Linked DNA regions of Homo sapiens: all the other regions are reported to be linked to region 1. Evidence: microRNA targets listed by miRTarBase, many of them from high-throughput screens and not tested one by one. Region 1 holds a microRNA gene; each other region holds the end of a gene's coding sequence.
Evidence for each region. The annotated mature microRNA hsa-miR-1976 reads CCUCCUGCCCUCCUUGCUGU and lies in region 1 at 3,906-3,925, shown strand. An mRNA with a match to its seed (bases 2 to 7 or 8) in the 3' UTR can be bound and repressed. Matches are read on the target gene's strand: a 7mer-m8 pairs with bases 2 to 8, a 7mer-A1 pairs with bases 2 to 7 and ends in A, and an 8mer does both.

Region 1 (5,429 bases):
GTGGGCTTCAATAAATTTAGAAGGCAACCTGAAAAAGAGAAAAGTGCTCCAAAGGAGAAGCACAAGCACTGTAGGAATCCAGAAGGCCCTAACCCAGCTTGGCAAATTAAGGAGCGCTTCCTGGAGAAGGTGAGGCCTAAGCTGAGTCAAAGAACCTGCTGAGAATCAGAACTGCCCAATAACTTGTATTATTTAAAAAAATAAATAAATAATATGAAGGGTGCCCACCCAGACCCATAGATCGGGATTTTAGGCCCAGGGATCCAGCTCACCAGGTAGCCGTTCTTACCAGCCCCGAGACCAGAATTTGGGAATTTTTATGCCAGATGGAAAGCAGAGCTGGTGAAGGCATGCCAGGGGGAGGTGCAGAGGCAAAGTCTGAGGATCTGACAAAGCAGAGAACCCTGGGGGAGCAGGTTGCTCAGACTGGCTGATTAACAGGTCTTGATGGGGTCTGGTGGGAAAAGGGACCAGAGAGATGGGCAGGGTGCCAAGGCCCCAGCTGTGGGCACTGCTGTGAGGGGTGGGGACAAGGAGCCAGCCAAGGAGCCAGAAACAGACTGGCAAGGAGGAAACCTGAGGATTGAGTGTCCCCAAAGCCCTGGGTGAGGGGGCTTTGGGAGCTCAGGCCTGGAGGAACAAGTGGAAAAGAGATCCCTTAGCGGGGGCTTGGGAGTGGCTGTGTTGAGTGTCTAGGCTACTGGTGACTTCCTTTCTCGTCTGGCCAGTACGTGACCGCGTCCGGACCAAGATGGAGAGAGACATCCTGGCTGATGTAAATCACCCATTCGTGGTGAAGCTGCACTATGGTAAAGCTTCTGGCCCTGCCTGAGCTCCTACCCCACCCATCCTTCGCCCTTGCCTGTGGTCTGTACACTGTCCCACCGCCTGCCTGGCAGGCCAAGGGAGCCAGGGCCGGAGAAGCAGATCATAAGGCCGCGCCGACTCTACCATTGCCTTTCTCCCTCTTCCCAGCCTTCCAGACCGAGGGCAAGCTCTATCTCATTCTGGACTTCCTGCGTGGTGGGGACCTCTTCACCCGGCTCTCAAAAGAGGTGAGCTGACATCTACTGCCAGAGGGCCCCGGGATGGAGCTGAGGGACGACAAGTCCTCCCATCCCAGGGCCCTGTACAGAATGTGTTTGGTATGGCTTGAACCTGGAACCACCCAGGCCTGCCTAGCAGCCCCTGGCCCAGGAAATACCACGCACCCTGGAATGGAGGCCATACGCTGGCAAGGTCTCTGAGAGTTTCTCCCAAGGAAACTCCAGGGAGCTAAGGGTTCCTCTCACCTCTGCACCTGCCTTCTTCCAGGGCTGCTCTGGGCAGAGGTGTGAAGATAGGGGAGAAGCCCAAAGTCACCCAGAGAGCCAGAGACTTTAGCAGTCATCTTGCGTATGTCATCCAAAAGGATTTTGAACCAATATAAAAGGATTTGAGGCTGGGCGCAGCGGCTCACGCCTGTTATCCCAGCACTTTGGGAGGCCGAGGTGGGCAGATCAGGAGGTCAGGAGATCAAGACCATCCTGCCCAACATGGTGAAACCCCGTCTCTACTAAAAATACAAAAATTAGCTGGGTATGGTGGAGTGTGCCTGTAATCCCAGCTACTCAGGAAGCGGAGGCACAAGAATCGCTTGAACCCAGGAGGCAGAGGTTGCAGTGAGCCAAGATCGCGCCACTGCACTCCAGCTTGGCAACAGAGCGAGACTCTGTCTCAAAAAAAAAAAAAAAAAAAAAAAGGATTTGAGCTAGAAAATGGGACCATTCGTACAATTCAAACTTTAAAGAGAATCTAGCTTTTTTTTTTTTTAATTGTAATTTTTTTTTTTTTTTCAGATGGAGTTTTGCTCTTGTCACCCAGGCTGGAGTGCACTGGTGGGGTCTCAGCTCACTGCAACCTCCGCCTCCCGGGTTCAAGCAATTCTCCTGCCTCAGCCTCCCGAGTAGCTGGGATGACAGGTGCACGCCACCACGCCTGGTTAATTTTTGTATTTTTGGTAGAGACAGGGTTTCTCCATGTTGGCCAGGCTGGTCTCGAACTCCTGACCTCGGGTGATCCGCCTGCCTCAGCCTCCCAAACTGCTGGCTGGGATTATAGGTGTGAGCCACCGTGCCCGGCTTAAATTGTGATTTTAATGTTTGAATAGGTAATATACATGATTCAAAAGAAAAATATTCATGAAGAAGTCTTCCTCCCACCCCAGCCCCCTCTATTCCCATCTATAGGTAAACATTTTTATTGGTTTCTTGTTTAACTTTCCCATGTTTCTTTTGCAAACAAATCCGATATATGTTCATTCCTACCCCCATTTCCTTATGTAAAAAGTACTATTCTGTATACACTGTTCTGTACCTTGCTTTTTTCAAGATAGTATATCTTGGAGCTCACTCCATGTCAGAACACGGAGAAACTCCTTGTTCCAGTTCATGGCTGCAAAGCACTCCATTATGCAGGGGAGAGGGCTGATTCCAGCCTTCTACTCTTGGACCCTAGGCCTGTTTCCCACCCCTTCTATTTCTGAATGGTGCCACAATGAGTGGCTTGCGTATTAGTCATTTCATACTTCAAATCCTTTGTATGATGAGAAGGCTATATGGCCTGGGGTTTCCAAGGGTCCTCCCAGGGTGGCTCTTCAGGACCAGGAAGCTGCTGACTGCCCAGTGCCCCAGCTCTTAAGGAAGAGGAGGTCCCTGCTGAAGGCCCCTCCTGTCTTTTGCAGGTGATGTTCACGGAGGAGGATGTGAAGTTTTACCTGGCTGAGCTGGCTCTGGGCCTGGATCACCTGCACAGCCTGGGTATCATTTACAGAGACCTCAAGCCTGAGAAGTGAGTGAAGCCTCCAGCCCCACCCCAGCCTCCCCAGGGGAGGCCTCTTCTAGGACAGGGCCATCCTGAGGTGGGTGGGCATGGCTTTCTCCAGAAACGTCTCCCTCTCTTGGGCAATCTGAGGGATGGGTGAGTGGGGTGGGTGGTAGTGCCAGCTGCCCAGTCACTAATGCTACCATTACCAAGGGCCAGGTACTTTGCATGCAGGTAATGTTGCCCGTCTTTTTTTGCTAATCTAGTGTGACATTTGAGATGCCACCTTTAGAGGTCTTTCCTTGATAAAGCCCTATAGAATTTTCCCTAATATCTAACTACCCTCAAATGATAACTAAGGAGCCAGGGGCAGGTGGTGAGTTGGAATAAGATCTGGCTTTAGTGTTAGGCAGCCCTGTATTCAAATCCTGTCTCCACCTACTAGCTAGACTTACTAGCTCAATGACTGTAGAGCTACTTAACTGCCCTGAGCCTTAGTTTTCCCATTAGCAAAACGGGGCCCTAATAGTACTTGCCTCACACAGTTGCTTCAAGGATTAGCAAAAAAGATAGGCAACACCCCTGCGTGGTACTGCTACCACCCTGCAACACCCGCCCAGTCATCAGAGAGAATTGGGTGGAGCACCTCCTCTGGGCTGAACCCAACTCCCACAGCCCTGTGGTAACACCATCACCCACACGGCCACAGCTGAGGGGCCCTGACCACTATTTCTCTATTACAGCATCCTTCTGGATGAGGAGGGCCACATCAAACTCACTGGTGAGTGGAGGGCGCCTGCCCCCTCGGGACCCAGGGGAGGACAGGACAAGGTCATGATAGGTCTCGGCTGAGTGCTGGGGGCTCATTCTTCCCGAGAAGCCGTGCCAGTTACTTGGAAGTGGTCAAAAACTCAGGCCTCAGACTTGGAACACCCTCAGCTGGAATCCCAGCCCCTCATTGTGTAACGTTGAGCAAGTCACCTGACCTCTCTGGGCCTTAGCTTCCTCCTGAGTGTCATGGGGGTGATGCCTTCTGGCCTCTGGGCACGGGGGTTGGGTGTGCAAAGGGTGGCAGCAAGGAAGGCAGGGGTCCTAAGGTGTGTCCTCCTGCCCTCCTTGCTGTAGACTTTGGCCTGAGCAAAGAGGCCATTGACCACGAGAAGAAGGCCTATTCTTTCTGCGGGACAGTGGAGTACATGGCCCCTGAGGTCGTCAACCGCCAGGGCCACTCCCATAGTGCGGACTGGTGGTCCTATGGGGTGTTGATGGTGAGTGCCCAGACAGGGGTAAAGGATCCAGCCCAAGCCTCTGGCCTCAGTCTCCCTATCTGTACAGTGAGGGGGTTGATCATTTCTAGGGCTCTCCCCGTCTCCTCTCACAGCCAAGCTGGCCTCACCCTATATGCACCTGCAGTTTTCTTCCTTGGAAGGATCCCAGGCTTGACCCCACCTGGGACGCGCCTAACCCAGTGCTGGCCTTCTCCCCAGCCTCGCGCCCCCACCGCTGCTCCTGGTGGTCTGGTTGGCAGAGGCAAGAGGGACGGGCATAATTCTTGCTCCAGGCTGACTTGGATGTATCAGCAAGAATCCTGGGACTGGGGCAGAGGGGTCTGACTGGGAGGAGGCGGGAGGTGTGTCGGAGACAGGGATCAGAGCCTGAATAGATCCTTGTCCTCTGCAGTTTGAGATGCTGACGGGCTCCCTGCCCTTCCAGGGGAAGGACCGGAAGGAGACCATGACACTGATTCTGAAGTAAGCCCCAGCCCTGCCCTGATAACAATGGACTCCTCCAAGCCCCAGCCCCAGTTTGGGGGTCAGAATATTATTACCCTGTCCCTGCCTCAGCTACCCTCTCTAATGAGACTCTCCTCTGGGTTAAACATTATACCTTCCAGAGCCCCTCTTTCATCCCTGGGGGCCTGTGGGTAGGATCCCTGAAGCCTTTGGGAAGTGAATTAGTGGATGGCTTGTCTAGACTGAGCTGGGAACTAGATCTGGACAGGGGCCGGGGGAGATGGGGCCTCTGGGGCAGGGCTCAGCCTTGATGAGTCCCGGGGGCTGTTTCAGGGCGAAGCTAGGCATGCCCCAGTTTCTGAGCACTGAAGCCCAGAGCCTCTTGCGGGCCCTGTTCAAGCGGAATCCTGCCAACCGGCTCGGTAAGCAGCCCCAGCTCAGGGGAGGGGATGTGGCGATGGGGAGCCGGGTACAGCTGCAGCCTAGGCCACAGGGCCACATCTGGGCTGAAAGGGGCCGTTGTCCTTTGTGTGGGCAGACAATGCCGCGGGCCACCCTGCTTTCTGGCTCCATGTGTGGTGTTGTGGAGGGGGGAGTTGACCTGTGTGTAGGGGGAAGGCAGGAACTGAGTCATCCCTACTCCCTCTGGGGACAAGGACAGAGGCCCCCACACAGCTTCTCCGCCAAGGCTGCTGGCACAAGAGAAATAGCATGAGCTCAGGAGTCAGAAGGCATAGGTCCCAATCCCGGCTCTGTGTCAGGTCCCCACTGCCTGGCACAAAACAGTCCCTCTATAAATATTTGTTAAACGAATGAGGCCACTTATGAACTAAGTGACCCCAGGCAGGTGACTTCACCTCTCTGCACCGCAGGTTCCTCGTCTCAATGGGAGAT
Region 2 (5,429 bases), not on the chromosome of region 1:
TTCAGTCTTAATATCAGAAGTTCTTGAGTTCAAAATAAGCACAACATGTCATCCAGGGATGGCTAGCTTGTTTGGGATTCATCTAAACTGCTGGCAATATCTAGACAAAAACATTCCACAGTCCAGCTAATATGGTTGTCACAACTCTTGAAAAGGGCCCAACATCTGGATGGCAAGTGAAAATGTGATCAGGGTTTAAGAACTACCCACTAATAAATAAACATGGAGCTATTTCCATGTCTTGGGTGTTGTGTTTCTAAGAAGAGACAGCCTTTCCATCAGAAAATTTCTGGGAGGGAAGAAAAAGAACAGTTTTGATGAATTCGCTTTGCAAATCATCATCCAATGTTCTTTGTAACCAGAAAGGTTTTCTTCTGCTTTCTTGCAGCTGTTATACTTTCTGCTGAGTGCCCTGGGCCTGACGGTCTGTGTGCTGGCCGTGGCCTTTGCCGCCCACCACTATTCGCAGCTCACACAGTTTACCTGTGAGACCACACTCGACTCTTGCCAGTGCAAACTGCCCTCCTCGGAGCCGCTCAGCAGGACCTTTGTTTACCGGGATGTGACGGACTGTACCAGCGTCACTGGCACTTTCAAACTGTTCTTACTCATCCAGATGATTCTTAATTTGGTCTGCGGCCTTGTGTGCTTGTTGGCCTGCTTTGTGATGTGGAAACATAGGTACCAGGTCTTCTATGTGGGTGTCAGGATATGCTCCCTCACGGCTTCCGAAGGCCCCCAGCAAAAGATCTAACATTCTTGCTCAAAGTTGCGAGAGAAAGTAGCACATGGAGTAGCTGAGGTTAAACAAACAAAAAAAAATTTTAAACAAAGAAAGGAAAAAAATTGACAATAAAAGTCACTCTTCTAATTGAATATTTTTATATTTTTATGAAACAAAAGAGCATTTCTTCAGGTTTCTATTGTATTTTTTTTAACATTCTTGCAGAGAAAGCAAGATCCAAATTGATTTTGGGATATTAAAAGTTAACAGAACACTGAACAAGGAAAGAATGGCATAGATCTATCTTTACAGTCTGGAGTTAATTCCTGTTAACTCATTTTATCCATTCCTTACATAATCTTCTTTCCTGTTAGTCCAGTTTGATGGTGTGAATGGTGAATTTCAGGCCCAGTTGCTAAATTTTGTGGCATCTTCCTCTAGTCCTTCCCACCTCCAGTCATCAGCCCCACTCTGTCTTGGAGACAGGCAGGAGGTGGGGGAAGAGCTGAATCTCTTTATTTTCCCTGGTAGAGACATCTTCAAGGCATGAAATAGCTTAAAGAGCAGAGTAGAAACGGAAGAGGCTTTGCAAAAGGCTAGATAACTAACAACACCTGGGTTGGGGCGGCGGCCTCTTCTCTTCAGCTCCCTTAGCTTGGCTCCGTAAGTGGATCACTTGCCAAATGCTTTAGATGATTGCCTCTCAATAATTGAAAGGTGGTGGTAGTTGTATTCTAAATGATGTAGAAGGTTTAAAAATAATTACATTATGCTTCTATTCTATCATCTAAAACAAATCATTAAAACTAATTTCTAGCTAATTGTTAATTATAATTATGCTCAGAAGTCTATTTAATGAGCTCTGACTGTACTTACGCTGCACTGTCGGTGTTAAGAGAAATTACTCTCACAAGAGCAGAGGCCTGAAGATTCTTTCTTCTGAAAGCCAAGCACCACAAGGAAAAAAAAAATTATTAATAGCTCAGGTTAAAAACACCCATTTAAACAAAAACAAGAGCATTTGTAATAGGAAGTGTTTATACAAACAGCACATTTGTGATATGTTGAAAAGCATCTCTCTTGGCAACCAATCTATGTTTGAGGAAGATTGGGTAATGCTGATGTGTTCCATTCATGAAACTGTATTTGATACATAATCCTATTATTAATTCGTATGCTTAGTCAACCTAGGAAATCAAAATAATGTTTTGAAGTTCTTATTTGAGCAATATGGCCTTGACTTGGAGGGTAGTTTTAGTTGTTTTGTTTTTAAGTGACTGTGGTTTAAAGCACAAATGCCCCAAGGTGGGGAGACTTCTCTCTGTGATTATTGTTGCTATTAAATTCTGAACTGTATCCATATTTTAAGGAAGGAGCTAAAAATGGAAATTCATGAAACATAAATGGTATCAAGAACTTTATCAGTATGCTTTGTTGAAAGCAGAAATTAAGATAATAATTGAGTTCAATTCGCCTCTCCGCATTGCCTATTGATACACTTTACTAATCATGAAATTCTAACCTAAAAGGAAAACATTTTCCTGCTTGTCTTAGAAGAAAGTGGAATAATTCCACTGATTGTGATAATGGTTTCAATTTCTACACAATATAAATATCCAGTATAAAGGAAAGCGTTAAGTCGGTAAGCTAGAGGATTGTAAATATCTTTTATGTCCTCTAGATAAAACACCCGATTAACAGATGTTAAACCTTTTAATGTTTTGATTTGCTTTAAAAATGGCCTTCCTACACATTAGCTCCAGCTAAAAAGACACATTGGAGAGCTTAGAGGATAAGTCTCTGGAGCAGAATTTATCACACACAAAAGTTACACCAACAGAATACCAAGCAGAATGATGAGGACCTGTAAAATACCTTGTGCCCTATTAAAAAAAAAAAAAAAAAAAAAGCCAGTAACTGAATCCATTTTGATTTTTGGTTGAGTTTCCTACACAAAGAAGAAAATAACTGAGAATCTGGAATGTTGTAGTCCATCCTTTAAAGAGTAAGAAAGTAGCAGTTAATGCTAGTAACCGTGAATTAGGCACCACTGAAAGCACATCCCGAATTTCTTTAACAACAACATTTTATAGTGAACACTACAAGTTTTTATATTTAAAAATTAAGACTCTGTATATCCTTAAGGTGCTCTATGCTTTACCAGTAATTCACAGGGTATTTCAAATGGTAGAATCATTTTAGCTTCTGTGCTTCCTTTTTCTAAATAATGCAACTTGTAAGAGTTGACATTGTAATAAGCTTTATAATAGTATAACCGTCAGGAGATATATATATATATATATACACATACACACACACACACACATATATACTATACATATATAAAATGGGGATATTACTATTGTATGATTAAATCATTCTTAAGTCCCCAAGGAAAAAAAATCATAAACAAATAGAAAGAACTAAACAGAAAAGAAAGAAAGAAAAGATCCCTTTGCTATGAGCTCGCTGTATATTGATAAGTGTAAGAATTGTGTTGCATGAATAACCGCTTTGGGCTGGATTTGAAGTATTTTGATGTTGTGTTTTGCAAATATTGAAGTTACAATAATGGCAACAGAAAAGGAACAGATACACAGCTTTACACTTAGCAGAATGTTACATTTAAAATCTGACAAGGCGCCAAGATGGTGACTGTCTCCTCTAAACCACGAAAGAGTAAGATTTGTGCAACCCTCCTCCTCTTCCACCTCCTTCAGGAGAATTAAATGAATCAAGACTTTGGAAAGACGGGGAAGAGCCGGGACTTGGCAGTACTTGAAACAGGAGGAATACACCAGCCTAAATGTACAGACTTTGTAGCCGAGCCCACTCGATCGGTCTGTGCCTTCACGTGACCACCATCTGTGCCTCCCTCGCTCCATCCAAATTTGTGTAGGCTGCTCCTTGGAGCTATGCCTAAAATATAGCTACACCAGAGCCCTGGAAACTGTAGTCAAGTAACAGGCCTCACTGTTTTTTTTCTTTGGATTAAAAGTGTATATCTCTCTACTGAGGGGTTTCCAGCTTTACACTTCTATAGGTTGTTCTGACAGTGAGAACACATTATGTACATGTTTTCTATTCATGTCCAGGGCATGAGAATCTTAATATTCTTATACTTCCCTTTTTGCATGCAGTATGTCTGGAATATGTTTATAAAATTTTAGCAAGGGGTGAGATCAAGGGACAAAGGTAGAGTGGTTATTTAAAGACAATCAGAAATGAACTTAAAAGCTGCCCTGCAAAACCAATCCTTTCCTATCATGAAGAGTACCTTCATATTTTCTAGAGATTGTCTCTGAACCGTTGCTACATAGCCATAAATTTCTGTAAATCATGTTGGCTATCAGTTCTTGCTATTCTCAGAGCACTCTATCATGTTTTTAGGTGTATATTGTGTATTCAGGATAGCATTAAAAAGAACTGATGGCAAATGTATTGACTCACAGTGGAAACATTCATTTGGATGAAGAATTAGTGGTTTAGCCTTTGAAATGAATACCTTGAATCATTTCTTCTGATTTTCTAGTAGTTTATTATCTCAAATGATTATTATCCCCTTCAAAAATACTGGTCTGTACTTTGGTGTTGTGGATTCATTTTTCTGGCATTGATCAAATAGCAAATACAAAATAAAGCATTTCTACATGTTTGAGGTGGTTGTTTTTAAAGGGGATATGTGTAATGCAGATTTTCTTTATTAATAAAATTTTCATAATCTCTGAAAACACTGTTTGGACGTGCTTTAAAGTAACTTATGTTACAGATGAACTGGTACACATAAAATCTCTCAAGTTAGTGTTTATTTCAAAAATCTGTTTTTGGAAAGACAAAAACCAATATTCACTGTGACTCCTTTGTTCCAGTGACTGTCTCTGCTTTGCTACTCTGTATCCATCGTAGAAGTCAAGGTTGTAATTGTTCCCAAGGCAAAGAGAGTCTGGCTGGAAAAAGTCTTGTAAAACGTACCTGGAATGCTGATTCTTACTTTATATCTACCAATAGCAACTAAAGTTTGTCCTGAAGAATGGGATTCACAAGTCATATTCTCTATTTTATTATAAAGAAAAACAGACAGCCTTTTCCATTTCAGATCAGAACCCAAGTCTGAGGCAATTTAAACAGTTGATTATACTGTAAAATACAGTGGTTCTTTTTATGTTCTTAGTAAAGCCCAGGACTCACAAGCCCAGAACACACTCTCTGATCTAAATTTTCTTTTCTTTTCTTTTTCTTTCTTTCTTTCTTTTTTTTTTTTTTTTTTAATTATACTTTAAGTTCTGGGATACATGTGCAGAATGTTCAGGTTTGTTACATAGGTGTACACATGCCATGGTGGTTTGCTGCACCGATCAACCCGTCATCTACATTAGGTGTTTCTCTTAATGCTATCCCTCCCCTAGCCCCCCACTCCCCGACAGTCCCCGGTGTGTGATGTTCCCCTCTCTGTGTCCATGTGTTCTCATTGTTCAACTCCCATTTATTAGTGAGAACATGTGGTGTTTGGTTTTCTGTTCCTGTGTTAGTTTGCTGAGAATGATGGTTTCCAGTTTCATCCATGTCCCTGCAAAGGACATGAACTCATCCTTTTTAATGGCTGCATAGTATTCCATGGTGTCTATGTGCCACATTTGCTTTATCCAGTCTATCATTGATGGGCATTTGGGTTGGTTCCAAGTCTTTGCTATTGTGAGTAGTGCTG
Region 3 (5,429 bases), not on the chromosome of region 1:
GGGAGAACGCCCCTCTTCCCCCACTTCTCTAAAAAAAGTTTAAAAATTAGCCAGGCATGGCAGTGCATTCCTGTAGTCTCAGCTATTTGGGAGGCTGTGGTGAGAGGATCCCTTAAGACCAGGAGTTCAAGGTTGAAGTGAGCCATGATCATGCCAGTGCTCGCCAGCCTGGTCAACAGAGCCAGACCTTGACTCAAAAAAAAAAAGGCAGCCCTAGATGTTACAGACCTTTCTGTTTTTAGCAATATGTGACAAAATAGATGATTTCTGCTTAATACCAAAGTACATGGTCTACTGGTAAACTTGTGTCAAGAGTTAAAATAAGAATTAAAAAAAAATTAATGGTTGTCCTTTGCAAATTATTGGAGAATATTTATTGGCTTGCTTTGCTCATATTCCTCAGCATCTGAATGAACTTAATCAAAAATTTTCAGGGACCATTGTGAATAAGTACATTATCAGGTAAAATTTACCAGTAAAATGTATTGATTATAACTTAGAAAGGTGAAATTAAACACAGTTCACCAATGATGTTTCGTAGGTATTATAACATGAATTCTAAAGAAGACGCTGGCTGAGCGCAGTGGCTCACGCCTGTAATCCCAGCATTTTGGGAGGTCGAGGTGGGCAGATCATTTGAGGTCAGGAGTTCAATACCAGTCTGGCCAACATGGTGAAACCCCGTCTCTACCAAAAACACAAAAATTAGCCAGGCACGTGGCGCATACCTGTAATCCCAGCTACTCGTGAGACTGAGACACAACAATCACTTGAACCCAGAGGTGGAGGTTGCAGTGAGCTGAGATCACACCACTGTACTCCAGCCTGGGCAACAGAGTGAGACTCTGTCTCAAAAAAGATTAGAACAATACATTTGACTAAAGCTTTATCATTATTTTAGGAGGTTTGATATGGAAAAAAAAGTTTGAATCAAAAATCCATTTGCTTTATCACAAAAATTGTCAACTTTACATTTGTTAATGAAAGAAAAGGAGCTGTCACTAGATTTAAAAAATGATCACATCATTAATTACGTGTAAAGAGATCAGATTACCAAAATGTAGGTGAATGATGAGAAAAGTCAGTAGGAGCAAAAGCAATAAATACTCTTCTCCCATTTGCTACCACTTACTTTTGAAGTTGCTTCTTGTTGGTAGGTACCAAGAAAATAAAGAGGTCATATTAAAGAGACATCACCAGGAATTATGAGTAGCAATTTCAAACATAAAATCTGACTTAAAAAAAAGTGTATTCATGAAAACACACCAAGTTCCTCATTAAAACATGTTAAAACATTTTATTTTGGAAGTTTTATAGAAATTTAACATTTACTGTCTTTCTCTTGGTAGTTTTATAGTAATTATATAATATAAAGAAAACACAATGACTATTTTAGCCTAGGCCCATGGAAGATGTCCCTAAAATCCCTCAAATTTACCCCACTGTGCCATATAGATATGTTTACTTACTTTCATTTTTTTTTTTTTTTTTTTGAGACAGGGTCTCACTCTGTCACCCGGGCTGGAGTACAGTGGCGTGATCTCAGCTCACTGCAACCTCTGCCTCCCGGGTTCAAGCGATTCTCCTGCCTCAGCCTCCTGAGTAGCTGGCACTACAAGCATGTGCCACCACACTTGGCTAATTTTTGAATTTTTAGTAGAGACAGGGTTTCACCATGTTGGCCAGGCTGGTCTCGAACTCCTGACCTCAGGTGATCTGCCGCCTTGACCTCCCAAAGTGCTGGGATTACAGGCGTGAGCCACCTTGCCCAGAAGAGATATATTTACTTTCTATGTGTGACACTGATTGAAGTCTGAGAAGCCCTGTCCATAACTAAAGTGTCTAATATGGAATTATCCAGAACATGTGTAGTATATTTGAATGAGGTTCAAGAGATACCTTTATCCAAATATGGTGACAAATTTCAAAAGAACCGGAAAAACTATGATGGATTTACATGAGGTCCATCTTTACAAAATTGTATTGAAAAATAAAGAATTTGGCCGGGTGCAGCGGCTCATGCCTGTAATTCCAGCACTTTGGAAGGCCAAGGCGGGCGGATCACCTGAGGTCGGCGTTCAAGACCAGCCTGACCAACATGGAGAAATCCCAACTCTACCAAAAATACAAAATTAGCCAGGCGTGGTGGCGCATGCCTATAATCCCAGCTACTCGGGAGGCTGAGGCAGGAGAATCGTTTGAACCCAGGAGACGGAGGCTGCAGTGACCTGAGATCACACCATTGCACTCTGGCCTGGGTGACAAGAAGCGAGGAAAGAAAAGAAAGAAAAGAAAAGAAAAGAGAAAAAGAAAGAAAGAAAGGAGGGAGGGAGGAAGGGAAGGAAGGAAGGGAGGGAAGGAGAGAGAGAGAAGAAGGAAGGAAGAAAGGAAGGAAAAGAAAGAAAGAAAGAAAAGAAAGAAAGAAAGAAAAAAAGAAAGAAAAAATTCTAACACATTAAAAAGTTAAACCACAAAACTGAAGGTTAGCTAAAGTAAACACAGTGGTCAATCATACATGATAAACTTCAAGCTGATGCCATAATTGTAATTACATGGTAACCTGAAGAAATATTGGATAGTAAAAGCCTAATGATTATTTTATATGCTAATCTGAGTTATTTCCTTTGAACAATGGTTATATTGAGGAATTGGTGAATTTTTCCCTTTGTTCTCCTGCTTGCTTTGCTGTTTTCCCTAAATATGTCTGCTGAGATGAACTAAAGAGAACATTTTTCCATCGAGTTCTCTAAAAATCTACCAGATGGGATCTCCTAAAGAATCCAACAGGAAACACACTCTTCTAGGAAATCACTGGAGGTCCCAAACCACTCTAATATGAATGATACCAGACCTCAAAGCTAACATTGAAAATGCACAGGTAAAACATCAAATAGCAGGCAGCAAGACAGAATACTACAAGCTTTTACTTTTTCTTTTTTTTTTTTTTTTTCTTGAGACGCAGTCTTGCTCTGTCACCCGCCTGGAGTGCACTGGTATGACCTTGGCTCACTGCAACCTCTGCCTCCTGGGTTCAAGCCATTCCCCTGCCTCAGCCCCCTGAGTAGCTGGGATTACAGGCACCTGCCACCATGCCCGGCTAATTTTTTTGTTTGTTTGAGACGAAGTCTCGCTCTGTCGCCCAGGCTGGAGTGCAGTGGCACAATCTCAGCTCACTGCAACTTCTGCCTCCCAGGTTCAAGCGATTCTCCTGCCTCAGCCTCCCAAGTAGCTGGGACTACAGGCACGCACCACCACTCCCGGCTAATTTTTGTATTTTTAATAGAGGTGGGGTTTCACCTTGTTGGCGAGGATGGTCTTGATCTCTTGACCTTGTGATCCGCCCACCTCTGCCTCCCAAAGTGCTGGAATTATAGGCATGAGCCACTGTACCCGGCCTAATTTTTGTATTTTTAGTAGAGATGGGGTTTCATCATATTGGCCAGGCTGCTCTCGAACTCCTGACCTCAAGTGATCCACCTGCCTCGGCCTCCCAAAGTGCTGGGATTACAGGTGTAAGCCACCACTCCCGGCCTACAAGCTATTTCCCTGTAATATGTCTGATCACTGTTAGGACCTGGTTATACAGAATTTTCATTCCAGGAAGCACAAATGTGATATACTTACAGTAATAATGGTCAGCAGCAAATCTTTTCTTTGGGGAGGAAAGGGTAAGAAAAGAAAAAAGAAGGAAAGGAATCTACCATATAGGCTGTGATAATCTTAAATGCTCTAAGTAAGCCATGTAATAAGTCTTCAAATGCATTAGAGATACATTAAAACATATTTGAAATGAAATTTCCAGCATCTAAGAGTGCTTGGAACGTGAATTTTAAAAAATAGTAGCAATAATTATTATTGCTATTAATTCTTATCATACTATTTTAGAATAATAAAGGAAGTCATAGATGCTGTATCTCTAGGTCTCTATAAACCTTAATAAATATATAGTTCATAGAAAACCTTATTGGAATGTCCCTTATATTCAATTAAAAGATAAATTAAAACCTCAGTCAAGATAGCAGCTTCTAAGGCATCAAAAACACTTATTAAGTTCTATACTCTTTGGTTATTTTCATAATCCCAATTCTAAAAAAAATAAATGAATTCAGCACATTAAAATCAGACATTTTGTATGTGAATTGCAGTTACAGTACTATTAAGTGTATGAAAAATGTCTAGCATTACATATAAACTCTGCACTATTAACATAATTTTGAATTATTATACAATTTAGAAAACTAAACATTTAGAAAAAGTATTAATGACATCATATATACTTTACATTCAAAATCATGGATTATTACAATATTGTGTCAAATGCAAAAAAAATTGCAGCTAATGTATCTAAACCAGCTTAAAAACATAACATGGAGTTAATACATTACAAATATTGTCTGTTGGGTTAGGTGGTAGTTACTTTAAACATTTAGAGCTACAAGTACCTATACAGTATAACACAGACACATAATTTTTTTTAATAATACAGACACATAGTAATTATAAATATGTTAAACAACTTTAACTTTGTTAGTTAACAAAGAATCCCTTTAAATTATTTTTGGCATGGTGCCTGAGGCTCCATCAAAAAACCGGATGGGAGGCGTTGCTTATTTACAGCTTCATAACATGTAGTGCTGGAGTCTTCAAGTAGATTTCCAGTTAAAATGTAGGCTTGTTCATGTATTCTTCCATTGTCTGAAAGCGAACAATAAATTAGAACAATTTTCCCTTTAAGTCACAGCCTTCCGCAGACTGTGAAATCTTCTGCATTCTTTTATTTATTTGCCATTGTTGAAAACAAGTTGTCAAAAGGATACATGGATATAAAATCTTTGCATTCTAATCAAAGTTTGAGTATAATTTGTATACACATCCATATGGGGCTGGAATTAAGTAACTTTCAACTGAGAAAAAGTTAAGCTTGATCATAAAGTGAATGTCTGATAAGAGAAATGCTTGGCCAGTGTGGTGCTCACGCCTGTAATACCAGCACTTTGGGAGGCTGAGGTGGGCAGATCACCTGAGGCCAGCCTGGCCAACATGACAAAACCCCATCTCGATGAAAAATACAAAAATTACCCGAGTGTGGTGGCATGCACCTGTATTCCCAGCTACTCGGGAAGCTGAGGCAGGAGAATTGCTTGAACCGGGAGGCGGAGGTTGAAGTGAGCCAAGATTGCACCACTGCACTCCAGCCTGGGTGACAGAGTGAGACTCCGTCTCAAAAACAAAAAAAAAAAAGAGAGAGAGAGAGAGATTGAAATGCTAAAGCAAAGTTGCCAAGATATCACTGTTGACTTAAGATAAACACGTTTGCTAAAATGATCAGGAGGACCACATCCAGGTACGTGTATTAGAGAATTCTGAATTACGTCTGTATAACATATGTATCGTTACCTATATTGTGCAGAGCATCTTTATTATACATA
Region 4 (5,429 bases), not on the chromosome of region 1:
CAACAGCGGCCTGAAGCCAGACCACATACAGCGCTTGACCTACAAGCTGTGCCACATCTATTACAACTGGCCAGTAAGTGCTTCTACTTGTTGATGTTTAGCAAATAAAGGACATTCACTTTTCAAAATGAAATAGCTGTGGTTTAAAAGGCTTTTAGGGTTAATACTGAGATTTGCAATTGAAAGAGGCTAAGTCTAGAGTAATAGAACCTTTTTTTCCTTCCACTAAAGGGTGTCATTCGTGTTCCTGCTCCTTGCCAGTACGCCCACAAGCTGGCTTTTCTTGTTGGCCAGAGTATTCACAGAGAGCCAAATCTGTCACTGTCAAACCGCCTTTACTACCTCTAACCTGCAGAAGACGATGCAGCCGCTTTTCTTTTTGAAATGACTTTGGGATTTTTTTAAGCTTTTATTTACTTTTTTTTTAACTGTTATCTTTCTGGATGAAACTTGGGAAGGGGATTAGGAGATCTAGCATTTTATTTCTAGCATTGCTATTCACCGGCTTCCTTATTTTATACGTAAAAATTAAGATTTTATATTTTATCTTCTTGTTTCTCATAGATATTTTGTGAGCATTTTTTTGTTTATTTTGAAGAAATGTGGATAAGATACTTGGTAGTATAAAACAGACTCTCTGAGAGTATTTGAAATGTGTTTGGAGATTTACTTAAACGTACTTTCAGGAGTGAGCAAGTCCTACTTATAAACCTATATTAACTTTATTTTTGAGATACCTGTTTTGAATTTAAAGGAGATAAGAGGCGTAAAGTAGGATGCTCACTACAACCATAGGTGGGGTTTCAGCTCATATCTTAAAGATAAAAGGTACTATTATATAACCTATACACAAGATACAGGAGAAAATATGCTTGATTTTTATTTGGCAGGGGGGCTAGGTTGTATGGGAGTAAAAAAAACATTGAAAATTTTTAAATTGTCCAAAGAAACATTTTAAGACTCTTTAACAAAAAAGGCCATGAGTAAATCTCTATATTAACATTACTATTTATTTTGTTTTGGAACTGGGACATGATTCTATTTGTTATAAAATAAAATTGATGTGATTGTCACCTTATTTGAATAACTGTAATTCTTGTTTTACTGAAAGTATGTGCGTTTTCTTTTCATTTAATTTTTAAAAGTGCATACAATTCCATTCATAAAAGCTAAATTAGCCTGACCAACATGGTGAAACCCCATCTCTACTAAAAATACAAAATTAGCCAGATGTGGTGCCAGGAGGCTGAGGCAGGAGAATCACTTGAACCTGAGAGGCGGAGGTTGCAGTGAGCAGAGATCACGCCACTGCACTCCAGCCTGGGCAACAGAGTGAGACTCCGTCTCAAAAAAAAAAAAAAAAAAAAAAAAAAAAAAAAAAAAAAAAAAGCTCAATTAGTGTCTCTTACGAACTCTAATGTCAGAGTAAAATTTTTTAAGGAAATGCTGCCACCTCCAATATTTGTAGTATAAGAACGGGTATCCACAGCTTATAAGGAAGCACAGACTAAGAAGTCTGTGGTGTTGTGAAGTTGGTAATTGTAGTTTTTTATATCTACATATTTATAGGAATTCTCAGGAACGTTTGCAAAGAGAAGGCTTAAAATTAATGAATTATTGTAAATCCCGGGAACACCTTTAAACATTGCTTACAAATGTGATGAGTGTAAGCTTTAATGACAATACACAAGTCCCTGGAACTGTAATTTAAACTAACGCAGATCACTCAAGTCATTTGTCTTACCTTTGTGGCACACGGTCTCATTCTGAATTTAGCCTCATTAACATATTATGAATGAAAACCATTTTATTTTCCTTTTAGTTCTTAGAGCTAATAATTGTTGTTAACATTGTTCTGGGCAAGCAGCCCAGGTTCCTTAACCTGTTCGATTTCTAAGCATGAGAAGACAAGAAACACAGAACAGTGTGACCTTCAAAAGGAGGCCAGAGACAAACATTTCAATGGTAGAAGTTGCTTAAGGTTGTCCTAGCATTAAGGAATATAAGGAAGTCTAATCATACGACTGGAAAATATTAATTTATTTATGGATTTTGGTGGCTAGTCAGTTAGTTAAGTCATGAAAAGCTCATTCTTAGCAGGTCTCAGCTCTGCCTCAAAGTGAAAGTTGAATTTAATGTCTTTAGAACCGTGAAAAATTGGTAAATGTGATAATTGTGGAAAAGTTGCAGGTGTCCAGAGACCCCACTATATCAAGAAAGACTTAGTTGAAAGGGACAGAAAACTGGCTGAAGTTATTTTAAGCCAAAAAAGGGTATTGCTTGGTTTTGTCATCATCCTAGGTAACACTTCCCAAATTTACTAATCTGTTAGACATCACCTGGTTGGGTTTGTGATAACACAGACTGGGTTCCAAACTGTACCTAGGAATCGGGACTCTCAGGGGAGAGGCCAGGTGAACAGTCTATTAAACAAGTCCCAGGTGATTTGCCAGGGACTTTTGGCAAATGCTAGTTGAAAGGGGTCTCCTTAACATCGTCTTGGTTATGCCTCTGCTGTGGTTTTCATCAGACAAACCTGTTGCATGCGGCGACAGAGACTAGGTTGATGTCTGAGCCACACCGAGTACACGGAGCACTGTCAGAGAATTCACTGCCGCACTCACAAAGAACAAAGCAAAGACTCCGTGAAATCCCAATTTCTCCTTTCACGTGGGATGTGCGTATCTGAGTGGGATGTCCAAAAGCTTTAGTGTTAAACACACTGACCTCAGGCTGTCCCTTCCCAAAGCTTCGTCTGACCAGTCTACCTGGTGGTTCCTGAAGGAACCCCAGGGATTTGGTGGGTGGTTCCCCAAAAGTGCATGCCTGTAGGAAGTCTGTCCACTCTTTTCTGGGTACATTTTCCTTCAAAATTCAAAAATGTGACACTCATTGAAGCATTCTATTTAGCAATTTTACACGCATTCCCTAAGTCCTACAGGAGTTTTTTGGAGTAATCTCCTGAACCTGCTGCTTACACACAGTGACGGCTCTGGCTCTCTCCTCAGAGTCAAATAGAAAGTATTTTCAACAGCAGTTTCATTCTGATACTATGATACGAGTCTTCAGATATTTCGTACATTTCTAAGTAAAAGCTTAAAGTTTGTGTAATTGGTATTGTCATTCAGATACAAGATTTCAAAAGCTAGGTTTAATTTTCTTTACCTTCATTATTACTACCCAATGATTTTAAAAATCCATTGTGTACAATAGAGAAACTGTAAAATTTTCAAGAGTAGTCAGGAGGGAGTCCCTGCACTTGGAGTAAGATGACTCTTCTCTCTAGGCCACCATTCAAAGGAGGCTCCATGGCCTCTACACTCTGAGTTAAGCTGCCCTTCAAGCACCCTGTGCTGCCAGAACTCAAGTGGGCACCTAGAACTCTGCACTGCGGAGTCCAGCGCTCTGCCCTCGTCCATCGCAGCCTTCCCACTCTCATGCCTGGGAACCCCACGACCAGTGGCATGCCCCATCCCTGGGCTCTTCCCACAAGCCCAAAGCTCCAGGTGATCCCTCGTATTTCAGGCTCATCTCTGAGGAGCTCTTTGCAGTCTCTTTTTTGACACCATCCCCTGCTCCTCAACTTTTCCTGTGTCCTCTGGAGCTCATTCTCAACAGCCTCTTAGGGGCGGTTTCTTTACATCTCCCTTTAACAAACTCGGCTTTCTCCCGGGTCACTCACAGTGCTGCTGTTGTCTCTCCTACACTTCTCGTCTGCCAAGGTCTGGAGGGTGAGGTAGGTGTCCCTCTTGCTCCTCACTGATATTTCCAGACACCCCGACCCCCGCAAAAAAGAAACCACTCGGCTTTGAATCTACTTTGATCAGATCATGTCAGCCGCTCCCCCTCCCTTTGCCACTTTATGCTCCCCGAGCTCCGATTCCTCCTTGCAGATGGTAGCTCCTGGCTTGCTCACATTGTCCTGTGGTGCTTTCCTTCTAATTCTTGGCTAAAACACACCGGTGAAGTCCAGCTTTTTGCCTACTTGCCTGTTCCTTTGCAAATAAACACGGCTGGAGAAAAGCACGCAACCCTGTGTAATTGTTGTATTTCAATTCATGATCACAAGCAGGTATTTAATGCTGTCAATACATGTATGTCTAGCCATTGGCTCCACAGCTCTCTGATGTTTTTCATACCTTGTCTCCTTACACCACCACCACCACCACCTCCATCCGCATTCTCAACTACTGTCTATTTTGCTAAAAATCCAGGCAGAGCTTCACAAGCTCCCACCTGAACCGCGTTTGCTCTGCAGCCCGGTGTTGTGGCGGCACGCACGGTCTGTGCACTCGGCCAGAGCACACCCCACCTGCTTGGGCACAAGACATTCATTTTTGGAGGATGTTGTTTTGGAATCTCGTCTCTCCTTGTTTCCCTGCTTTAGTATTTTTCTTTTCCTATTCATTCCCAACAGCTTGCAAAACTGGTGTCATTTTTTTTTTATGTTAAAAAATAAAAGCCTTTTGGGCCCCATTGACCCTTAACTACTGTTCCATTTCTCTCTTTCCCTCAAAACTCCTGTGTTGTCTGGACTTCTTTCCTCCCCATCCTCTCTTGAATCCAGTGCCAGCTGTTCAATTCCTGGCCATCCTCCAGCCAGACCTGCTGCACGCCTGGCATGGTGTCCCCTTTCTCCTGGAAACATGCTCTGCCTGGCTTCCACGATGCCATGCTCTCTTGGCTCCCCACACCTGACTGTTCCTTCTCAGTCTCTTGCTGGTTCTTGTCTCTAAGGCCTAAATGTGCCTTCAGACTCTGCCAGGATCCCCTTTCTTTCTGCTCTTCCTCTGTTGGTGATTTCACCCATGACTCATTTGTATGAAGATGCTTCCCAGACCACATCTCCAGGCCCAGTTTCCTCCCTGAACTCCACACTCACATCATCAGCTGTCTCCTAGACGTCTCCCTTAGGCTGTCCAACACAATGCTGCTCAGACTTCTTGGTCTCGGAACTGCCTGACACTCTTCAATTACTGAGGACACAGAGATTTTGTTTATGTGAATTATATCTGTTGATAATTACCATATTAAAAATTAAAACATCTAAAAATATGCGTGCCCATATTCCATTGTCAGAATGATACTGTCAGCACATGACGTGTAGCCTCTGGAAAACACTGTATATGCCTGAGGGCGCGTTAGAGTGCAAAGGAAAAGTGACCTCTCAGTATCATACAGATAATTTTGATTTCGCAGAACTCCAAAGGAGTCTGAGATTTCCAGGGGCCTCCAGACCGCATTTGACAACCTCTGGTTGAACTGGTGTTTCAGTATGCTCAAAGTTAAACTGTGATTTCTTGAAGCCCTGTTCCAGCTCCGTAAATCAGGACTTCATCCTTCCAAATGTTCATTCAGGCCAGAAACCTGGGAGCCATCCTGGAGTCATCTCTTACATCACACCTCAGATTCCTCAGTGAAGTTTATCA
Region 5 (5,429 bases), not on the chromosome of region 1:
AGGAGAATTGCTTGAACCTGGGAGGCAGAGGTTGCAGTGAGCTGAGATCGCGCCATTGCACTCCAGCCTGGGCGACAGAGCGAGACTCCGTCTCAAAAAAAAAAAAAAAAAAGGAAAGAGCCTTGTCCCAGTAGCAGACTTTCCTGTCACTTAAAGCTAGGTTAGAATGAGCACACACTCAGCTGGATGTTTTTCACTACAGATGAAAAGTTTGCTACGTTTGTTTACACAAATAATCAGGAATTATGAAATGCTGTGTCCTGGCAAGAAATTTTATTTCACTTACAAAAAAAAAAAAATGAAATTGACCTGTCTTCCAAAGGAGTTGAAAGATGTAGTGGGTCCCTCGGAGGTAGGAATTGTGTCTTCTGGTTCCTTTATAACCCTCTCACAGCATTTGACACAATTGGCTGGGACGTAAATGATAAATACTTGTTGAAATCATATTTAAAAAACACTGAAAACCACAGTCATTTGAGAGAAGAGGATCATTGTTGTTGAGTTTTTATCTCCATGATGTTTTATCAACCTCTATAATGCTATATGGCATGCAAGATATTAAAAGTGATATCTTTTCAGAGATGTCATCCACAAAAGATAAAAGTTAATTGTTGTTTTTGCTTTGTTTTTGTTAGCTGGTTTTTGTAACATATGGACCCATACCAATTTAACGTCTCTTTTTCTCAGATGGAGGCCAAAGTAAAGGGGACACTAAATTACCACGGAAATCTCAGTGACTGCCCAGCAAGCAAAGGAGACGAAATGTTTAGTTGACTGATGGAATCTACCTGATGGGAAAGTACTTATGTGGTCATAGGGCTGCTGTTTCTGTCGATGTTTACATTCTCTCGTCCCAAGCACTGTGGTGAGGAGGAAAAAGAAAAGAAAACATTACTTGAGCAAAGCCAGGTGCAGGAGGAAGAAATGCTTTTGTGCAAAGTTAGTGACCTTTGGTCTCTTCTAAAGAATGACAGAGTTACCGTATTAACAGACTTGAAAGAGACTCAGTTGTCAAACCCACAGAAATACAAATTTGATTTTTCCCGGGGGAGGAAGAAGGAAGTGAAGAGAATTTGGGTAAACTCCATCCATCCTGGGGGTTGGATCTGAACACTTACAGACATAATTGGTAATAAAAGGCATTAAAAACTGGAATTAGGCCAGTTTGTCAGGAATAATGATCATGTCTATTTGAATGGACTGTGTAGCAGATTTGCCACAAAAAGAAATAATAATGATTCTATCTCCGATAGACAGTAGCTGCATAGCACACCCTCGAAAATCCTGAACAAACTTGAATCTCCTCCAGTGTGTAGCAACTTCCCTCAATCAGTGGACTAAAGATCCTTCAGGAAAGTTATTTTAGCACAGTGATATATATTATTAAATCATCTAGATTTTTAAAAATCAGGAAGTTGAGCCTGTTGCTCTTAAGAGATGAAACCTAGATGTCCCCTTTTTGTAAAAGGGTCAATTTCATCTTCCGTTCAGAAGCAGGTACTTAACTCTTTTCTTCAGGTGATTTGTGCATCTAGTATTGACTGGTTAATTCTTATTTCCATTCTTGATGTTAAAATGTGACTGTGTTCACATTTTTCTCCTGAGAAATGGGGATCTTTACAGGGTTATTGCTTTGCTGCTTTTAGCCCTTGCAGCAACATAAACTCTAAGTTTCCCCAGTTCATCTAACTTCACAACTTCTCCTTCTGTTCTTTTAGCTAGTGGTCCTTCAGGTGATTATTAGCTATTGGTATAAACAGGTAGAAGTGTACACTATGTTTCTTCATTGGTCATTCAAATGGCATGAATATAGTTTTTGAATTTTTAAGATGGTATTTTAAAGGGAGGAATCACATTAGGATCACAATCACGACATATTTTTACTCCCTGTATCCAGTGTAGTGAAATTGTTTGGAGCATTTGAGATCCTAAAGCTTCACTATTTACTCAGTGTATTGGTATGTGAGTAAATCTGCAGAAAATAAGACTCCTTAGTTATTATAGCTTCCTTATGCAAATAGCATATTCAACAAAGGATGTTAAGGGAAAAATTTATGGTTCTCCTTGGATACATTTGATTTGATGGGTTTTTTTGCCGCATTATTCTAGTTTTTTAAGCTTCTGAATATTTTCATACTATATCAGAGAATGGTGTAAACTCTAAATGGTATAAGCTTCATCCATTTATAATGACACTAACCTAAAAAAAATAGACTGGTAGTGACAAGATTTATTGCATATGTGTTTATTATACATTACCCTATACCATTAGATTTACTCAATTAAGAGTATTAACCAGGCCCTTTTTTCTTTTATACACAAAAGTCCCAGATACCCTACAGGACTGTGAATAAATAACCACAGATCGGTTCAGATCTGTATGCCTATATTTTGACTTCAAAGTCACATTGGCTTGCTTCATAGCGAAAAAGTTAATAAATAACTGAAAACTTTAGTTCCAAGAACTTGTTACAGTAAAGGGAAAGGATTATTTCAAAGGAATCACTGATATAATTTCTTGACTCTAAGAATTTAGTTTATCAATAAAACAAATATGGATGTAGTATGAACCCCAGTAGATATTTTGGAAGGATACTGGGAGGATGTTGCAGAGAGGTTTGACTTGAATTCAGTATGTTTGATGAAGATTTGCTTGGTTTCAATTAAGGAAGCTTGCCCAATTTTTTTAATTTTTTCAAATGTAGTGGACCTCTTGCTTTTACGAAATATGAATAAAAAGGTCTTTGCTTCATACTAGGGGAAGTGATGGGATTTTCCTTTGGGAAGGTAGCCTTTGTTTTACTTCTCATACCACAAGAGAAGTCGAAGTGCGTATTAATTTCTCTTCCTGAATACTTGTATATATGTTTGTCTGTATGTATATATACATACACACATACATTCATATAAATGACTAGTTTGAGTCAAAAAATCATTTGAATTTCTTAAAACCATCAATTCTGAATCATGCCATATGAAGATCCCTGGTGACTGTCATCATTAGAAAAGAACAAGATAATCAGTTCTTTTCCCTGTAACATTTTATACTAACCAGTAAAAATATCTGAAGGCCCTTGGCTCCAAGAATACAATGTGGAGATTCTTCTGTGTTCTCTTTAGTCTTGATTCCTTGAGGACTACTGTCAGATCCCTACCTTAAACCCCCACCTGCACTGACGACTTACATTCATTTCAGTCAGGACCCCCCTTTTATGTTGTATGAATCAGTCAAACATCGTTGTATTTCTGTATAGATAAAGTATGATCAGAGAGTTTCTACATGTAAATAGTAATCTATTTCTTTCCTAGATCATAACATTGAAAAAGGTGCCCATACTTTATGGTCACCTGTCTTTACCGTTTTTATTACTAAAAACAAACATATAAATTGGTTATTTTTTAGCACAGAGACTTGTGACTCATACTGTATTTTTGCACTTAAAAATCAAATTATGTTATTTTTTAAAATGGTGAGTCATTGGAAAGGATATCTATAGAGCAACGTGTATTTCTGAAGAGCATTAGCAACATCCAAATGCAAAAATAATCAGCACACATGATTATATCCCACTCCTTGGGATTCTTGATTCAGGAAGATTAAGCTGTTTGTTTTCAACTGTTTTATATTTTAAATTGCCTTCACTGATATATAAGCTGTTACTGTACATACAAGTTAATCCTCAGTATTCACAAGCAATAACAGTCAGCAGGGTTGTCCTCGGAGATAGCTGTGCTGAGCCTCAGTTGGAGACTGGGAGCAAAGTGTCAAGCTCATTCAGAGCATCCAGAATAAATGCAAGCAATAATTTCCATTATAATTCAATTATAATTCTTGTATGCTTTTGAGGTCAGAGGGTAAATGAAATCGTGATTTTAAAACAGCCTGAAGAAAAAGGTTTTGGGAAAGGAAATGAGGCTAATCTGTAGTCATAAAATTCTGATACTTTGCGGAAATTAGAAGATGGTGATAGTGCATTCTTTTGTGCCCACCCCCCCTCTGATGGATGTTGTTAGCCCAAATTACATTTTTCATATCATGGACATTGAATAGGGTTTATTGAATCAGGAAGGTAAGGGGAAGAACCGGGCACATATGTGTTGGAATACTGTGGGTTTGACACCTGGTTGAAAACAACTTATTGGACATGATTTTTAACCCAGGATATTTTTTTCCCAAAGCAGATCTAAATTGTTTACTACCCAGGGTTGGAAAGGGCAGGCACCTCTAATCTAGTCTTTGTCCTCTGGTTGCCCTCTCCCACACCCCTTTCCACCTATACTTGGTTCAAGACATTTTCTGAAACGAAAATTCTGCTGTTGTTCAAACTGCCATTGGTTATGAGAACTCTGCGTCCTTTGGGATCATCTCTTAGAACTCCAGTGATCTATCATATTTGCTGCTACATTTGTAAAATGAACTTTGCCTGTATTGGTTGACTTTAATTTACAGTTCTTTATTTCTAGGATGTTTTGTCCTCTAGTTTGACTCATGTATAGAATTAGGATACTTTATTTTAGGAGTGTACCGTAAAAGCACACTGGTCCCTTTGTTGTTTTTATTATTTAGGTTTGGAATTTGTTTGCTTTTTTTTTGTTTGTTTTTTGTTTTGTTTCTGTTTTTGTTTTTTTTTAAAGTTGGAAATAGAAGAATGAGAAAAATCTATAATCAGGCCAAACTTGAGAACTTTCCTGTGCTTCAGCACTGTAATTCTGCTGACCTAATGTTCTCAAAAGAGGCACTTTTACTTTCTATTGTGCATGTATGATTGTTGTTTTTTGCTTTTGAGGGGGCTTTTGTGTTTGTAATAATGAAGCAGAAGAAAAGTGCAGTAGTAGATAAATGATCACAACATGTTATGCAATTTTATTTTATAAAATTTTAAGGGGAAAAGTTTAACTCTTTGTAAATCATTTCTTAGCTCTGGTAAAATGCTTATATTACTCCTCTAAAACATGCTCAATTCAGGCCTTTGTCTTTGTTAAGTGCCTTTTTTCTTTCTTTTTTCCTCTCTTTTGAAACTGTTGTCACATTATCTTAAAGTACAGACTGATAAGTCAGGGGATTCAGGAGGAAGAATCTCACACTTGTCAACATCATGTCATGCTGTGTAACCCTCTTCCTTTGCTTTCTATGTATATGGATATATGTGTAAGATACATACATTACATATATATAAAACTAGGAGCTGCTGTACCATTGCATCCTTTCCAAACACTCCCCTTTCCATGTTTGCAAAACTTCTGCCTTGTTTATTCCATTGCTTTTAGTTGATTAAAGTGGGTGGATTAGAAAAGTATCTTTTCGGCCGGGTGCGGTGGCTCACGCCTGTAATCCCAGCTCTTTGGGAGGCTGAGGCAGGTGGATCACGAGGTCAGGAGATCGAGACCATCCTGGCTAATATGGTGAAACCCCGTCTCTACTAAAAATA
Region 6 (5,429 bases), not on the chromosome of region 1:
TAATCCCAGCACTTTGGGAGGCCGAGGCAGGCGGATCACTTGAGGTCAGGAGTTCGAGACCCGCTTGGCCAACATGGTGAAACCCCGTATCTACTAAAAATACAAAAATTAGCCAGGTGTGGTGGTGGGCACCAGTAATCCTAGCTACTTGGGAGGCTGAGGCAGAATTGCTTGAACCCGGGAGGTGGGGGTTACAGTGAGCCGAGATTGCACCACTGCACTCCAGCCTGGGTGACAAAGCAAGACCTTGTCTCAAAAAGAAAAAAAAAAAGAGAAAAGAAAACCCAGGAAGTTGCCTGATAATTCTTTTTCATGACTACTGAAAAGATGGGAGCCTGAGAGAGACCTAACAGGAGTAAATACTTTAAAAACAAATTGTATGGAACTGTACCCATTCTGAGGATGACTGATACAGTTCCAGTATTCAAAAGAAGTATACCTTTTCCAGCAAAGCAGATCTTTTGTTTACATAGAAAACATTTTGTTATTTGGGAAGTTTGCTTAACTATTTGTAAGTGGCTCTTTGCAATTAATGGATTACCTTTTTTTAATGGAAAGAAAATAAATTCAAAATCCATAAGCAAAACTTTAGTAATTTCTGACTCTAGGATACTAGCATCTTCTATTTCTTATGTGATTTAGACTCAACATTTTCCAGTGAGTTAAGTACTTACATCCTCTGGCTGTATAGCTCTGCCCATTTGCCTCGTAATACATTTTTTTTTGAGACAGTCTCGTTCTGTCACCCAGGATAGAGTGCAGTGGTGCAATCTCGGCTCACTGCAACCTCCACCTCCCAGGTTTAAGTGATTCTTATACCTCAGCCCCCTGAGTAGCAGGGATTACAACGCACGCCACATTTTTGTATTTTTAGTAGAGACGGAGTTTTGCCATGTTGGCCAGGCTGGTCTCGAACTCCCAGCCTCAAGTGATCCACCTGCTTCTACCTCCCAAAGTGCTGGGATTACAGGTGTGAGCCACTGTGCCCAGCCTGCCTCATATACATTTCTAAGGACTCCTCTTCTCAGCCATCTCAAGCTGCTTTTATCATAAGAGATAGGACCCTGCTCATTTTGACAAGAGGAACCATATACCCAGCTGTGTCCTCCCTCCATTTGAGTAAACTTCCAAAACTTGAGCCACTAAAAGATTCCATTGCTCTGACCACCTAACAGTTCTCCCAACATGGGTCAGAGAGCAGAACAGTTCTCTAAGCTGGTAGGGGGAGAGAAGCTCTATCATGTTAGAGCAGACATGAATGTGTAAGGGAGAATAAGCAGAGGAGTGTGTGCAATAGGCAAACCATATCTCTGAAGTGTGATGAGTATACCGAGGTTTCTAGCTGGAAAAATGTTCAGGGTGATGAGATAAAGAATATCTCAAAGTTTTAATCAATAAATGCAAACCAGCAAAAATATCAATAAAATATTTTTAATGCCTACAATTTCTTGTATACATAAATTGCAAAACTTTCACCTGTATATGCAAAAGTATATTCTCTTGCAGGTCAACAGCACCAGAAAACAAGCTAAGCTATCTAAAAATTTTTTTAACTTGATTTGTCCATTGTGTAAAAGACAGGATGGATTTAATTACTCCAAAGAAATCTCTATCTCACTCTTAATCATACACTAAACGTCTGAATATTTAATCACATCCACTCAGAAAATAAATAGTAGTCTAATATATTCAATACATTGAAAATAAAACAACCAGTCTCTCTTCATATATTTATTCTCTTTCCAAACATGTTTTGGTCTCCTGCTATATCTCAGAAATTTACCAATAGCTGCTTTTAAGTTACAAAATACAAAACAACAATTTATTTCTTGGAGAAAATCTTGGGGATTACATTAAAAATGAAAATTTGAGTTCCCACATTCTTTTTTTTTTGACATGGAGTCTCGCTCTGTCACCCAGCCTGGAGTGCAGTGGTGCTATCTTGGCTGACTGCAACCTCCGCCTCCCAGGTTCTAGCGATTCTCCTGCCTCAGCCTCCCCGGTAGCTGGGATTACAGGTGTGTGCCACCGCACCCGGCTAATTTTTTTATTTTTAGTAGAGACGGGGTCTCACACCATGTTGGCCAGGCTGGTCTCGAACTCCTGGTCTCAAGTGATCCGCCCGCCTCGGCCTCCCAAAGTGCTGGGATTACAGGCTTGAGCCACCATGCCCGGCCAGACTTACTTTTTTGTTAACGGTCTTTGAACCTTTTCACGGCACACATGTAAGGCCGCCTGTGACATGTGGTACCCTGGCCTCCAACTGGACACAACTGCATTTATAGTTTAGCGAAAATACAAAGTTCTGAAAGTAGCCTTAAAAGAAGTGCCCTTTGCTTTGACATAGCAATATCAAAAGCAAGTGGGACTGTGCAATCAGAGCCATGAGTTTTATGAAAACTACTTTCCTTTCACATCATTTGTTAGAGAATGCCACACCCATGATCATGTAACATTATTACAATCATGAAATATTACTACATTCGTGATTAACATTACCCAAAAGGCACATCTTCAAATGTTGAATTAAGAAAATCCAAAAATCAAAACAGTAGAGAATACATTAAAAATCAAGCATTTAATTTGTAAACCTTAATGAAATAACAGCCTACTCCAGTTTCTTCAAAGGTTTGTGAGCTTTTTATAAGAGTGGTCAGGAAGTGCAGAAAAACAACATGGAAGACAGGATTTGGAAACAAGGCCAAAATTTAAAAGACTTAACCTTTTTTTTCTTTTAAATGAGCCACAGAAGTGCTCTTTTATAATGTTGACGCAAATCAACATTTATATTATAGAAATGCACTCAGAAGTAACAGACACACAAGGTTAAAACCTGATTCTTCCCACTAAGTTCTGGAAATTTATTCTAACATAATGGTGCCTTTCTGTACAAAGAACTGTACCATATCATAAATTTACTGCTAGTAAACTTTAAGCCACCAGAAATCTTTCAGCTGTGACAAGCACTTGATTGTAATGACAGATTTCAGAGTCTGAATACTGAAAAATATATATATCCAATAAAAAATTTTTGAAGGGGGAATAAAAGCACATAAATGGCAGCAGAGGAATTGATGTTCTAAGCCTGTTTTATTACATGGGACATCACACTACCCTTAATTTCACTGAAGGTATCTGAAATGGGTGAGATGAAATCAATAGGATTTTCTGCTACCATTGTAACAGTTCTATATGTAGTTACAAAGGGTGTTATTCCTAGTGATGATGACACCTTTCATGGGATTCAACTTAAAAATTAAATCCTTGCACTTTCAAAGTTTGAAACTCAATTCAAAATGAGTCCGTCTTAAAAGCCTGGCTCATATGGTCCCATTAAGGGAGGCTAACAATGGTAATCTATAATACCCAAACTTGAAGAATAAAGACTTTATGGATAAAAAGGAATAAACCAAAATATTTGGGCTGTTGAAGTATAAGGGCCTGTTGTAGGACAATCCCTCCTACTTCCTAATCCCCCCCATACAATGGCTTAAGATAGCCAAAACGTTTATTGTAGAACGTTTATTATTCCTACAAGCTTATGTCTCACTTCCCCTAAGCCTCTGTACTTACAGTCAAGGACAAATGCTCTCTAGCATCATATCTCATTTTCTGTTGCTGACAGTTCTTGAGACTTGGCTTCCTTCCAGCATGATCCTAAGTCAGCCTGATTGGAACTGCTTGGACTTGAAGGTTAAGGGCTATTAAGTCCATATTTATGACTTTAAAAAGGGTAAAAATGAGTTTCCACAGCTCAGTAAAATAACGATAACAGGGAACATCCCTTCCTACCTGGGGAAAAAAATCTCTTCACAGTGCATAGTTTGAAATCAAAGTGCAATATGGGCAAAAAGAGAAGGTGGTGCTCTCGATACCATAAATTTAGTTTTTGGTTTTCTGCCATTAATATTTGCTAACAAATTCAAGCTAAAAAATGAAGTCATTAATGTCAAGAGGTATGAGGGCACCTTGGGATTTCAAAATATCTTTATGATGGGGGAGGGGAGGAGGGGAGAGCCTCACATGTTACTTCCTTATTTTATAAACTATTACTCTTTCAAATCTAATGTTTGAATAAAATATTTTTTCTTCGATATAAAAATGAATTTTTTTAGATAAAAATCAATCAGCACAGTGACCTTGTCTTACACTAAAGCCAACATAACAGTAAATCTGAAAGGAAAACTTAGAAAAGAATATTATACTGTTATAACCTGTATTTTAACTTGAAAATTTTTTCATTAATTCCTAGCCACCTAAATTAATGAGTAAGAATGCTCAGCATCCAATCCATGAATACAGAATTTATTCTACTTTGTACTTCAAAGTCACAGGATGACATCCATATGATAGTTATAAATTCTACTCTACATTTTCAAGTTCTCAATCCATAGATTAGGACAAGTCACTTTATTGCTGGCAACATTCATGGAAGGTCCAGGTTTCTCATAAAAAGACTAAGTTTGATTGGGAGCAGGGCAGTGCCCTACTCACAGATCAGCAGAAGAATTACAGAAATCAAGAGACAACCTTTTTTTTCCTTTCAAAGTAGCAAAGGAACAATAAAAGATTGGCTGACTGGTGAGTGGCCCCACATTAGAGTGCATAGCTCATCAGGATCAAGGCTGGCATCTGTGAACAGTTAACTTCATAAGAGCACAAGTGGGCATTATATCATCTGCATTACAGATTTCACCCTGGAAAATATCTGAAAATATTTTATGCTCAAATGACAGCCTGCAAATGACAGTATGCATTCCTTCTCCTTGAGTACCCAAGTATAAATCTAAAATGATAAGGGGGCTTCTTCAGTCTGAAGGCAGGAAATCCTTGCAGCAGAGCAGCTCTAGAATTTCACAAAAATAAAAGCAGCAGCTAACGCCTCTTCAGCTTCTTGGCCCTTCGACGTTGCATTTCTTCTTCTTCACGTCTCATTTCCTCTAAGTCCTCTTGCATACCCAGTCTTAAGCTGCCAAAGAATTTTTAAAGGGTATTTGTCAATATACATGAGATGACCACTTTCCTTAAAAAGAATGAAAATTCCAACTGGGAGCTCACATGGATTGTGCTGATGCTCTCAAAATGCCTCAAGGCTTTACCACTGAAAACAAACTAGCAGGGATATTTTTTTACCAGGGGCCACAGACTCAAATTGTCGTGGGAAAAAGAACTCACACACCACAAAAACCTTACTATTTCCATTAAAATAATAAAATATAGGTTTATCTCAATAGCTTTTAAAAATAAACAGCAAGAAGCATTTATTCATTAACTAACATTCTATTCTTGTTCTCTTCCAACACTTTAGTTTGAAATTTTATGGGCAAGAGGGAGAAAAAGATATAGTATTCTGGCTTGAGACTGAAGTGAATTATTTACCTATAATAACATTATGGCCGGGCACAGTGGCTCACACCTGTAATCCCAGC

Region 2: miRTarBase lists SSPN as a target of hsa-miR-1976. Seed matches in the 3' UTR shown: 7mer-m8 at 1,211-1,217, 7mer-A1 at 3,004-3,010 and 7mer-A1 at 3,442-3,448.
Region 3: miRTarBase lists AP1S3 as a target of hsa-miR-1976. Seed matches in the 3' UTR shown: 8mer at 3,205-3,212, 8mer at 2,670-2,677 and 8mer at 1,582-1,589.
Region 4: the mRNA of PIWIL1 is a reported target of hsa-miR-1976. Seed matches in the 3' UTR shown: 7mer-A1 at 858-864 and 8mer at 1,252-1,259.
Region 5: the mRNA of UBN2 is a reported target of hsa-miR-1976. Seed matches in the 3' UTR shown: 7mer-m8 at 912-918 and 7mer-A1 at 5,374-5,380.
Region 6: the mRNA of SPTY2D1 is a reported target of hsa-miR-1976. Seed matches in the 3' UTR shown: 8mer at 1,982-1,989 and 8mer at 1,758-1,765.

The regions. Positions count from the first base shown.
Region 1 is chr1:26,550,669-26,556,097 of GRCh38, forward strand. It overlaps MIR1976 (microRNA 1976), which reads left to right and starts at 3,874; the gene lies at 3,874-3,925. It overlaps RPS6KA1 (ribosomal protein S6 kinase A1), which reads left to right. Exons shown (of 22, transcript NM_002953.4): 5 at 729-809; 6 at 976-1,055; 7 at 2,723-2,829; 8 at 3,546-3,583; 9 at 3,928-4,070; 10 at 4,483-4,553; 11 at 4,869-4,957.
Region 2 is chr12:26,230,323-26,235,751 of GRCh38, forward strand. SSPN (sarcospan) reads left to right here. Exons shown (of 3, transcript NM_005086.5): 3 at 389-4,455. The coding sequence ends at 754. All of the region lies in intron 1 of SSPN-AS1 (SSPN antisense RNA 1), which reads right to left. Among named protein-coding and RNA genes, the nearest start is that of SSPN, 37 kb to the left of the region's middle.
Region 3 is chr2:223,754,056-223,759,484 of GRCh38, forward strand. It overlaps AP1S3 (adaptor related protein complex 1 subunit sigma 3), which reads right to left. Exons shown (of 5, transcript NM_001039569.2): 5 at 1,271-4,695. The coding sequence ends at 4,660. Among named protein-coding and RNA genes, the nearest start is that of AP1S3, 81 kb to the right of the region's middle.
Region 4 is chr12:130,371,251-130,376,679 of GRCh38, forward strand. It overlaps PIWIL1 (piwi like RNA-mediated gene silencing 1), which reads left to right. Exons shown (of 21, transcript NM_004764.5): 20 at 1-73; 21 at 232-1,387. The coding sequence ends at 348. Among named protein-coding and RNA genes, the nearest start is that of PIWIL1, 36 kb to the left of the region's middle.
Region 5 is chr7:139,297,100-139,302,528 of GRCh38, forward strand. It overlaps UBN2 (ubinuclein 2), which reads left to right. Exons shown (of 18, transcript NM_173569.4): 18 at 688-5,429. The coding sequence ends at 737. Among named protein-coding and RNA genes, the nearest start is that of TRR-CCT4-1, 41 kb to the right of the region's middle.
Region 6 is chr11:18,604,986-18,610,414 of GRCh38, forward strand. SPTY2D1 (SPT2 chromatin protein domain containing 1) reads right to left here. Exons shown (of 6, transcript NM_194285.3): 6 at 1,418-4,969. The coding sequence ends at 4,876. It also overlaps a transcript of MISFA not described here. Among named protein-coding and RNA genes, the nearest start is that of MISFA, 7.9 kb to the left of the region's middle. RefSeq lists a silencer at 3,457-3,751.